Homo sapiens: one gene and its partner. The protein of the gene in region 1 purifies or fractionates together with the protein of each later gene. This does not show direct contact. Each region holds a gene or a part of one and is shown on either strand. Other genes may lie near its edges.

Region 1 (4,539 bases):
GTTCAGGCAGTCTACCAGCCTTGGCCTCCCAAAGTGCTGAGATTACAAGGCATGAATAACCAGCTATTCAGTTGGTTCTTGAAGAGGGAAAGACTTCAGGACTTGGAAGTGAATGTTGGTGGCAGAAATGTAAGAAACTAGTTGGGTGAGTTTTCAGAACTATACGGCACCTTTTTAACTGGAAGCCAGAAATCAAGAGGCCTGAAAGGAAACAAAGGGAATCCAAAGGAATGAAAGTAAGGTTGTCCAAAAAGTTCCATTTTATTTATTTATTTAGAGAAAGGGTCTTGCTATGTTGCCCGGGCTGGAGTGCAGTGGCACAATCATAATGCACTGCAACCTTGAGCTCCTGGGCTCAACTGATCCTTCTGCCTCAGCCTCCCAAGTAGGTAATTTTTAAAATTTTTATTTTAAGTAGAGATGGAATCTTGCTATGTTGCCCAGGCTGAGAAGTCTTTCTAAGACTAAAAAAGGTAAAAAAAGAAAAGTCACAGATCACAGGGGTAAACCATGCAGAATCATAAATGTAACTTTCCTTCTGTTAAGATATTTAATAGAAACTGTCTGTAAACTTTTTCGTTTGTTTAAATATATTTATGTATATATAATATATGTACATATAAAACATATACACAACTTTAAGTCATGTATCATTTGGATTTTAACTGAGAGTCTTTAACATACATTAGAGATTGACAAACTAGCTAATCCAGCTCAGTGCCTGTTTTTGTAAATCCTGTAAGCTAACAATGATTCTTATATTTTTAAAATGGGGATGGGCATGGTGGATTATGCCTGTAATCCCAGCATTTGGGGAGACTGAGGCAAGAGGATCCCTTGAGGCCAGGAATTTGAGGCTGCAGTAGCTATGACTGTACCACTGCACTGCATCCTGGGTGACAAAGACCTTGTCTCTTAAAAAAAAAAAAGGAGGAGGGGGGTTGGAGAAAAATCAAAATAATAATATTCTGTGACTTATGGAAAACTATATGAAATTGAAATTTCAGTGGCCATAAAAAGTTTTATTGTAACATAAACGGGTTTGTTATATGTCCATGGCTACAAAGCACAGCTGAATAAATGTGAGAGATGATATCACCTACAAAGCCTAAATTATTTACTATCTGGCCCTTTAAAGAAAAAGTTTGTGAAACCCTGATATACACACATGCGTTTCTGTCAATAGAGTCGGAATTATTTTACCTAAATGCATATCATGCATATGAAACCAGTTGTCTGAGTATTTAGGGTCTAACTGGTAGACACGTTATCAAAGCAATGCCCAAAGACAACTTCAGGAGTGGTGTTCTGAATCAAATGTAGAAAACAAGCCACTGAGGTAGTTAAGGGAGAGGCAGATTCTTGCCTCAGCTCAAATTTCTCCAGTGGCTCTCTTTTATCTAGTTATAAAGTCATTTGCTTGGCATTCAAGGCGCTTGAAGACCAGAGGCTACAATCAACCAGGCTTTTCCGCTCAGTATCATTAAATTACAGTACTTATTTTCCCGAACACCACGGTCTCCTACGCCTCTGTGCTTCTGCACATGCCATGGCGTCCTTCTATATGCCTGCCCAGCAAACCTTCTCATCCTTCAAGTCTCTGCTCCTGAAATCTTCCTGGATTTCTCCAGTCTCTGGCAGTGCTTCAATGTTGCCACTGCACTCTGTACATACCTTCAATTATCTTGTACAGTGATCAGTTATTTGCATGTCTTTGACCAACAGACTGTAAGTTCCTTGATGGTCAGGCATTGTCTTTTCATCCTTAGATTCCCAGCAGAATTACCAAACACAGAAGTAGACATCAAAGAAGTATTTCTTGAATGAATGAAATTTTAAAAATCATTAAATCTAAAAGTGAATTATGTTTGGTTCCTAAATTCTCTGCTTTGCCCAGCTGTCAAGACCCCCTTACCCCTTTCCCAAGTTGGGACACACTTCTGGCAGCTATGTTCCCAGCTGGACTAGCAGGGGCAGAGGCACTGGTTTATTCTAATTGTCTCTTCGCTGATACAACAAGGTGCTAGTTGGCCAGAGCCCCAAATTATACATTAGCAAATCCTGACTGACAACAGCGTGAAACCAGCAGGACAAGTTTTAAGAAGTTGCAAAGGTTAAGACGTGAAGGACAACGTGGGAGGAGGACCGGGCAGAAAGGGATTCAGGACGAGATCCATCTCACCCTCCGTGGAGGGAAAACCGAATGATTTCTACTGAGTTTCCCTAGTTCCTGTAATCTGCTTTCAAAAACTCAGAACTAAAAAGGAAACAAAAAACTAACACGTAAACCCCTCCTCCTTCCTACGGCTCTGACATTTCCTCTGCGTAGGATTTCGTTGCTCCAAACCCACCAGGCCTAAGCCATGTAATCCGACGCGATCCGTCGGCTTGATGACTCACCACTGGAAAGCGCTCCCTGCAATCCCTCACAGTTCAGACAACTAAGTCCGAGATGGAAGGCAACGTGTGACTCACGGCACACTCCTTGTAACGCCCGGGCGCCGTCCATTCGCAACATCAGTCCCTGCACATTAAATGCGGAAGGGCCCTTCAAGTTCATTCATTCATTCATTCCACAAACTTTCGTGGTGATTTTTGCCCGCTTTGAGTATGGGCGGGAGGAGGGAAGAGGAGCTGACCAGACCCAAAAAGGGGCGACACACGCCGGGGAGGGACGCCACGCAGGCCGCGGGCGGACTCCCGGGCGGCGGGGACGCGCGGGGACCCGGCCGCGGGACGAGGGAGGCCGGCGGCTGGACACTACCTGCGGGAGAGCGAGTGAGGTTCTGGCCCTCCGAGTTGACCGCCTGCAGGTAGAAATAGCGGACCGGCAGGACGACGGCCGCCTGCAGCCCGGGCCCCCACACCAGGCTCCGCGGCGCGCTGACCAGCACCTCCGGGGCCCCCGCGGCCACCAGCAGGGCGAGGCGCAGCTGCAGCAGCAGGGCCCGCGGGAGGCGGCGCATGGTCGGCGGGGCACAACTGCGGTCCAGCTCCGCGGCGGCGAGGAGGGGCCGGCAGCGCCGCGGACCGGGCGGGGACTGGGGCCCACCGCGGGGCGGGTCTTTCGGGCGGGAAAGATTGCGGCGCAGGCTCCCTTTCCCGCCCGCTGTCCCGCCTCGTCTCCCTCGGGCGGGAACGCGAGCCAGTGCCGCAATCACCCACTGCGCGCCCTGTAGGGGTCGACGATGGGTGCGCCCCTTCCTCCCCGCAGCCCCATAGGCCCCGTGGAGGAAAGGGGTGGAGAGGCCCGCCCAGAGACCGAGGCTGCGAGTGTGCGCTGGCTGTTGATTGCCAAGGCTTCAGGCACGCCTGGCCTCCACTTCCAGTGGTCTTTCCCTTTCTTTTTCTTCCTTCCTTTCCTTCTTTCTTCTCTTTTCTTTCTCTGTTTTTATACAGACAAGGGGGCTGGCTCTGTCGCCTAGGCTGGAGTGCAATGGCGCGACCACAGCTCACTGCAGCCTGGAACTCGTGGGCTCAGGAGATCCTCCCGCCTCAGCCTCCCGAGTAGCTGGGACTGACTGTAGGCACACGACACCACGCTGGCTAATTTAATTTATTATTATTATTATTATTATTATTATTATTATTATTATTACTATTACTATTTGTAGAGACGGGGTCTCCCTATGTTGCCCAAGGTGGTCTTGAACTCCTGGTTTCAAGCAATCCGCCCGCCTCGGCTTCCCAAAGTGCCGGGATTACAGGCATGAGCCACCGGGTCCGCCGCTCAGGTGTTTTTAAAGGACGTAGACCCGGTGGTGATTGTTGTGGGACGATGAAAGGGTCCGGCCCCAAGATCGATGTAGTTTAGGGAAATATCTTTTCCCAAGGAATGTCTCCGAGTTTACAAGATGAGCGCCAAGGTCACGCCCCCCGCCCTCCCTCACAGCCCTCTGTTCACAGCAGCACCGTTCTCTTGTGGCCGGTTTTGTTGCTTTTCTGCTTAGCAGCCTCCCTCACAGAACCGTGATCCCCCCACCCCACACATCCCTTTCCCCGCTTCCTCCCGCACTCCTCTTCTTCCAGCAGGTGTTTACAGAACATCCACGGAGTTTGGGCCAAGCCCAGAGTGAGGAGCTGGGCACTGGGGTGGCAGAAGACCAGGCCTTGCCTTGAGCCCTTGTGCGAGCTTTACCTCAAAGCCTCTGTAATCGAAGTGGGAGAAGGGGTGGTGGTGCGTGGTTGGTCTCAGCCACCTCCACCACTCCTCAGAAGATGAACGCTGGATCCAGGAAGAGATTGTCAAGGTTACTATCTGCCTCTCTTTTTTGATCATTTTATCCAATTTGTTAATGGATACAAATTTGTTAATGGATTGTTAATAGATCTGAATTTATTTAAAGCCAATAAAGATTCTCCTCTGGCTGAATGATCCAGAAGGAACTCACACCCCAGAATGGACACAGGATTTCTGCACCCTCTTGGGGGAACTTAATGCCCAAAACATCAGAGCCAGGCACTGGACAAGCCTTTGTCCGCCTCACGGCTTTAACCGTGCTACTCAGCATTCTTGCTGTGACCAAGTTTTACCAGGGC
Region 2 (4,423 bases), on another chromosome or scaffold:
ATATAAAAAGAATACTTCTTGCTAGACTAATCTGGCAACAATGTGAAAAAGAATTAAATTAGAGTAGCTTAAAAATAAAAAATTGGGGCCAGGCGCAGTGGTTCATGCCTGTAATCCCAGCACTTTGGTAGGCTGAGGCAGGCGGATTGCTTGAGGTCAGGAGTTTGAGGACCAGCCTGGCCAACATGGTAAAACCTCGCCTCTACTAAAAATACAAAAGTTAGTTGGGTGTGGTGGTGGGTATCTGCAATCCCAGTTACTTGGGAGGGTGAGGAAGGAGAATCACTTGAATTAGGGAGGCAGAGGTTGCAGTGAGCTGAGATCGCATGACTACACTCCAGCCTGGGTGACAGGGCAAGACTCTGTCTCAAAAAACAAGAACAACAACAAAAATGGGTTGGTATCTCAAAGGGATACCAAGGGTGAGGGTTAAATTAAGTAGATAATCCACATCAAGGTGCTCTGCACTCTCAATGACAAGGAATAGGACGTCTGAAAGTGCTAGTTCCCCTCAGTGTCTTCCCTTCTCCATCCTGTAGTAGCTGCCAAGAGAGCCCACCAGCAAGAAGCCAAAGAAAACAGAAGCTCTTTATGCCAAATCACAAGGACAGACAGGGGAATGTGGGGGATGGACAGGAGGGAGGGCCTGGGCAGGCTGCCTGCCTTTTGGCACCTTGTGCCCAGGCGAGTTCCCGGACCCATCCAGGAGCTCTTAGTTCGTTCAGTCAATTCCTTGACATTTGATGTGCCTGGCTCAGAACTGGGTGCTGGGGACATCTAGGTGCATAAAGCCAGGTTGCATTCTGACAGGAGAGAGTCAAGCCAACCGGCCAGGACAGGCCTGCTGCTTTATTCACAGATTTAGATGTCGTTCCATCTGCTCTCGAAGTTTGAATTTCTGGATCTAGAGGAAAGAAAATGGAGTTAGGGTTACCAGCTGTCTTGGTTCACCCAAGAATAAGGGGTTTCTCAGGCTCTTAGTGCCAAAACAGGGAAAGTCCCCAGGCAAACCAGGATTAGGTGACCCGGTCACCCTACTGCCAGTCTCTCCACACCCATTGCTGAAGGAAACAGAGGTGGGGCCCTATGGGGCCCCAGAGCCCAGGCTGCCCTCCCCAGCCTCCTCCACCTTACACACCTTTCCTGAAATGGTGAGGGGGTAGTTTGTGACAAACACGATGTACTTCGGAATCTTGAAGTGAGAGATCTGCAGACCAGAGGGAGGGAGGTAAGGCGTGAGGCTGCGCAAGCTCACAGGGGTATGGGTAGGGGACCAGGGGCTGGCCTGGCCAGGAGTCAGCTTCGTCAAGGGCAGAGCAATCCCCACCCTGGGCTGGTTGGCAGAGGAGTGGGTGAGCAAAGAACAGAGCAGCATCAGCTAGGTTGAGCGGAGGCTCCCACCTTCCCTTTGCAGAAAGCTTTTATCTCCTCCACCGTGGTCTCCTCCCCGTCCTTCAGCCGAATGCAGGCACAAATCTCTTCCCCCATCCGATCGTCCTTCACTCCCACCACCTTCCAGGGCCAAAGAAAAATATCAGACATCACCGTGTTCATGTGTGTTTCTTGTTTCTGGGGGCTCACCTGAGCCAAGTGCCTCACCTGCACTTCCTGCACCTTCGGGTGTGTGTGAAAGAAGTCCTCGAGCTCTGCGGGGTAGATGTTCTCACCACCCCGGATGATCATATCCTTAGAGCGGCCCACGATCTTGCAGAAGCCCTGCTCATTCATTGTGGCGACATCTCTGTAAGGAAAGCCCAGGGGCAACCTGTCATCTCTGCCTTGTTCACTCACTTGCTTGCTCAGTCGTGAAACATTTATTGACCAGCTACTATGTGTCTTCCACTGCTCTAGACTCTGGGAGACATAGCAGGAACAAGACACAGTCTCTGGAATTAATAGTCCAGTAAGGGGAGGGGAGGTAGACAAAAACAAAACAATACCTATAACATATTCTGTCTCTCTCAACACATCTATACATAGCTTTTCACGACTGGCTTCTTTCCAGGTCTCAGCTCAAATGTCTCCAGACATCTTCTCTGTCCACTCAATCTAAGGGAAGCTCCCCTCCCCACCACAGCCACTTTCTCTCCTATAACCCTATTTCATTTTCTTAGTGTTTTTTGTTTGTTCATTTGCTTGTTTGTTTTTGAGATGGAGTCCTGCTCTGTCGCCCAGTCTTGAGTGCAGTGGCGCGATCTCGGTTCACTGCAACCTCCATCTCCTGGGTTACAGCGATTCTCCTGCCTCAGCCTCCGAGTAGCTGGGACTACAGGCACGTGCCGCCACCACGTCCGGCTAATTTTTGTATTTTTAGTAGAGGTGGGGTTTCACTGTGTTGGCCAGGCTGGTCTCAAACTTCTGACTTCAGGTGATCCACCCGCCTCGGCCTCCCAAACTGCTGAGATTACAGGTGTGAGTCACCGCGCCTGGCCTATTTTCTTGGTGTTATTTATCGATGTTGGGCATCATCTGTCTTCCTCCAAAAAGCAGGATCCTTCTCATCTTACTTTCCTCTGGACCTCTAGCGGCGAGAACGGTGCTAGCACATAAGGAATTCTAGTAAGAATTTGCTGAGCTAACAAATGAGTGACTGAATCTGGACTCAGATTTTGCAGCTGCTGGTGTAGGGTGATGACCCAGTTGCTTTCTTCTGTGCTATGTATGATCATCCCCACCGTATACATTTTGGAAATTAAGACTCCAGCATGTGAGGGGTCATCTTGATACCCACATCCTCACGGTGCCAGGTTAATGTTCCCGGCTCAGCCTCAAGACCTCCAGCCTCCCCTCAGCGGCCAGAGCCTCCACCCCGCCCTGCCTTCTCACCCTGTCCAATACCACTTGTCCTGATCCACTGCTTCCTCTGTCTTCTGAGGCTCACCCCAGTAGCCCAGCATGACGCAGTACCCTCGGATGCACAGCTCCCCGGGCGTGTTCAGCTTTGCCAGCGTCCCTGCCTCCATGTTCATGATCCGGGCCTGGGACAGGATGGCCTCAGGTTGGGGCTTCCTATCCTCTTGCTTCAGGATAGGTGGTCCTTGGAAATGGAGAGAGCTTTGCCTGCCCCCAACCCCCCAACCCAACTGCCTGGAATGAGGCCCCCTGGCTCTGCTTATCCCCATCCAGAGAAGGGAGACAAAGGCTAGAGTCGACCCAAAGCCAGTGAGAGACCTGAGCTGGGCATGAAAGAAGAGCTGAGTCCCAGGCTGGGAGGGCTGAGGAAACAGAGTGGGCAGGCAGCTGCTGCAAAGAAAGAGGTTTGTGGACTGCAGAGCCAGCTGAAGAATTATAAACCGTGCAGAGGAGAAGGGAGTCTCCTCTTACTTCCCATTAAGCAGCAAATAAGCCAAACAGGGTGGCATGGCAACACCATGTGAACAGGAGAGACAGAGTCTGAAAGCCTGGTAGAGAAAAGAGCCACGGCCACCGTGCCAAGGAAAGCTGAGCCTCTGTGTGCCTCAGTGTCTGTGTCCGTGAAATGGGGTGAGTGATGCCTGCCCCTGTTTCCCTTCCAGGTGGGCATCTTAGTGACAGTGGCAGTGCAGCTGTAGCACACACGGGAGGAGGCTCACATCCCTACTCAATCCCTGGGTACATGGTTGCTCTGGCGGGAGGGCAGGGCAGATTCACGCCAGGACAGCGGTCAGCCCCAGGGGAAGCAGCTGCTTGTGCACGGGGGCAGCGATCCCCCAGGGGCGGGAGCAGAAGGGTGCAGGGGAAATCAGGAGCCAGCTGGCACAGCCCCAGTGTTGGAGCAGGAAAGGAGGCATGGCTGGGCATTTGAGATTCAGGTGCACTCTGGGGCAACCTTTGAGGGGCAAAGGGACCGCCCCAAAGGGATAGGCTGCTTGGGAAATGAAGTGTTTACGCCAAGCAAGAAGAAGAACTCTGCTAAAGCGAGAGGCGAGCACCACTGGAGGAAAAGAAGCTGTGTAGGAAAACTCTCTGTGCTCTGGCTCCTCTTTGAGGCTACCCTGGCTGCCCTGAAACAGACAGTGGGCTTGGCAAAAACACACCTCAGACAGGAAGGGAGGCCGCGGAGAAGTTCAGCTGGCAGCCGCTCACAGCCACTGTTCCAGCTCTTCCCCTTTCATGCTTAGCCCACAGAGAACACTCCGGGCCAGGCCTAGCACACCCCTGCTGCTGGGGGGCTCTAGGCATCCTGAGTGAGCCATTTGACTCTCTCACTGAAAGCAACCGATGTCCCAGCTGGGTGCACCCCAGCTGGGTGACGGGAGGTGGGACTTTGGAGTCTTGGTCAGGGGCTCACCTCCGTGTGAGGCATAATTCTGCCCACGCTTTCTGCCTTCTGCTCCACAGTGTCCTCAGGGAAGTGCGCGAATGTCACGGGACTGTTCTCTGTGGTTCCATAAGCAACCTAGAGGGTCCAGAAAGGGTGTTTGAAGAGGGCTCAGCACGTGCA

Evidence for each region.
Region 2: the proteins of POGLUT3 (region 1) and ACSF2 fractionate together in Homo sapiens (co-fractionation; one large-scale study listed by BioGRID). This does not show direct contact.

What each region holds. Positions count from the first base shown.
Region 1 is NC_000011.10:108,495,401-108,499,939, forward strand, and holds the start of POGLUT3 (protein O-glucosyltransferase 3 isoform 1 precursor), read right to left. Parts: upstream 2,985-4,539; 5' UTR 2,967-2,984; coding exon 2,765-2,966; exon of another isoform or gene 2,561-2,764; coding exon of another isoform or gene 2,401-2,560; intron 1,819-2,400; exon of another isoform or gene 1-1,818. UniProt on the Homo sapiens protein: Protein glucosyltransferase that catalyzes the transfer of glucose from UDP-glucose to a serine residue within the consensus sequence peptide C-X-N-T-X-G-S-F-X-C. Can also catalyze the transfer of xylose from UDP-xylose but less efficiently.
Region 2 is NC_000017.11:50,470,983-50,475,405, reverse strand, and holds the end of ACSF2 (medium-chain acyl-CoA ligase ACSF2, mitochondrial isoform 2 precursor), read right to left. Parts: intron 4,379-4,423; coding exon 4,271-4,378; intron 3,038-4,270; coding exon of another isoform or gene 3,023-3,037; exon of another isoform or gene 3,008-3,022; intron 2,979-3,007; coding exon 2,827-2,978; intron 1,742-2,826; coding exon 1,600-1,741; intron 1,513-1,599; coding exon 1,402-1,512; intron 1,208-1,401; coding exon 1,139-1,207; intron 905-1,138; coding exon 854-904; 3' UTR 569-853; downstream 1-568. UniProt on the Homo sapiens protein: Acyl-CoA synthases catalyze the initial reaction in fatty acid metabolism, by forming a thioester with CoA. Has some preference toward medium-chain substrates. Plays a role in adipocyte differentiation.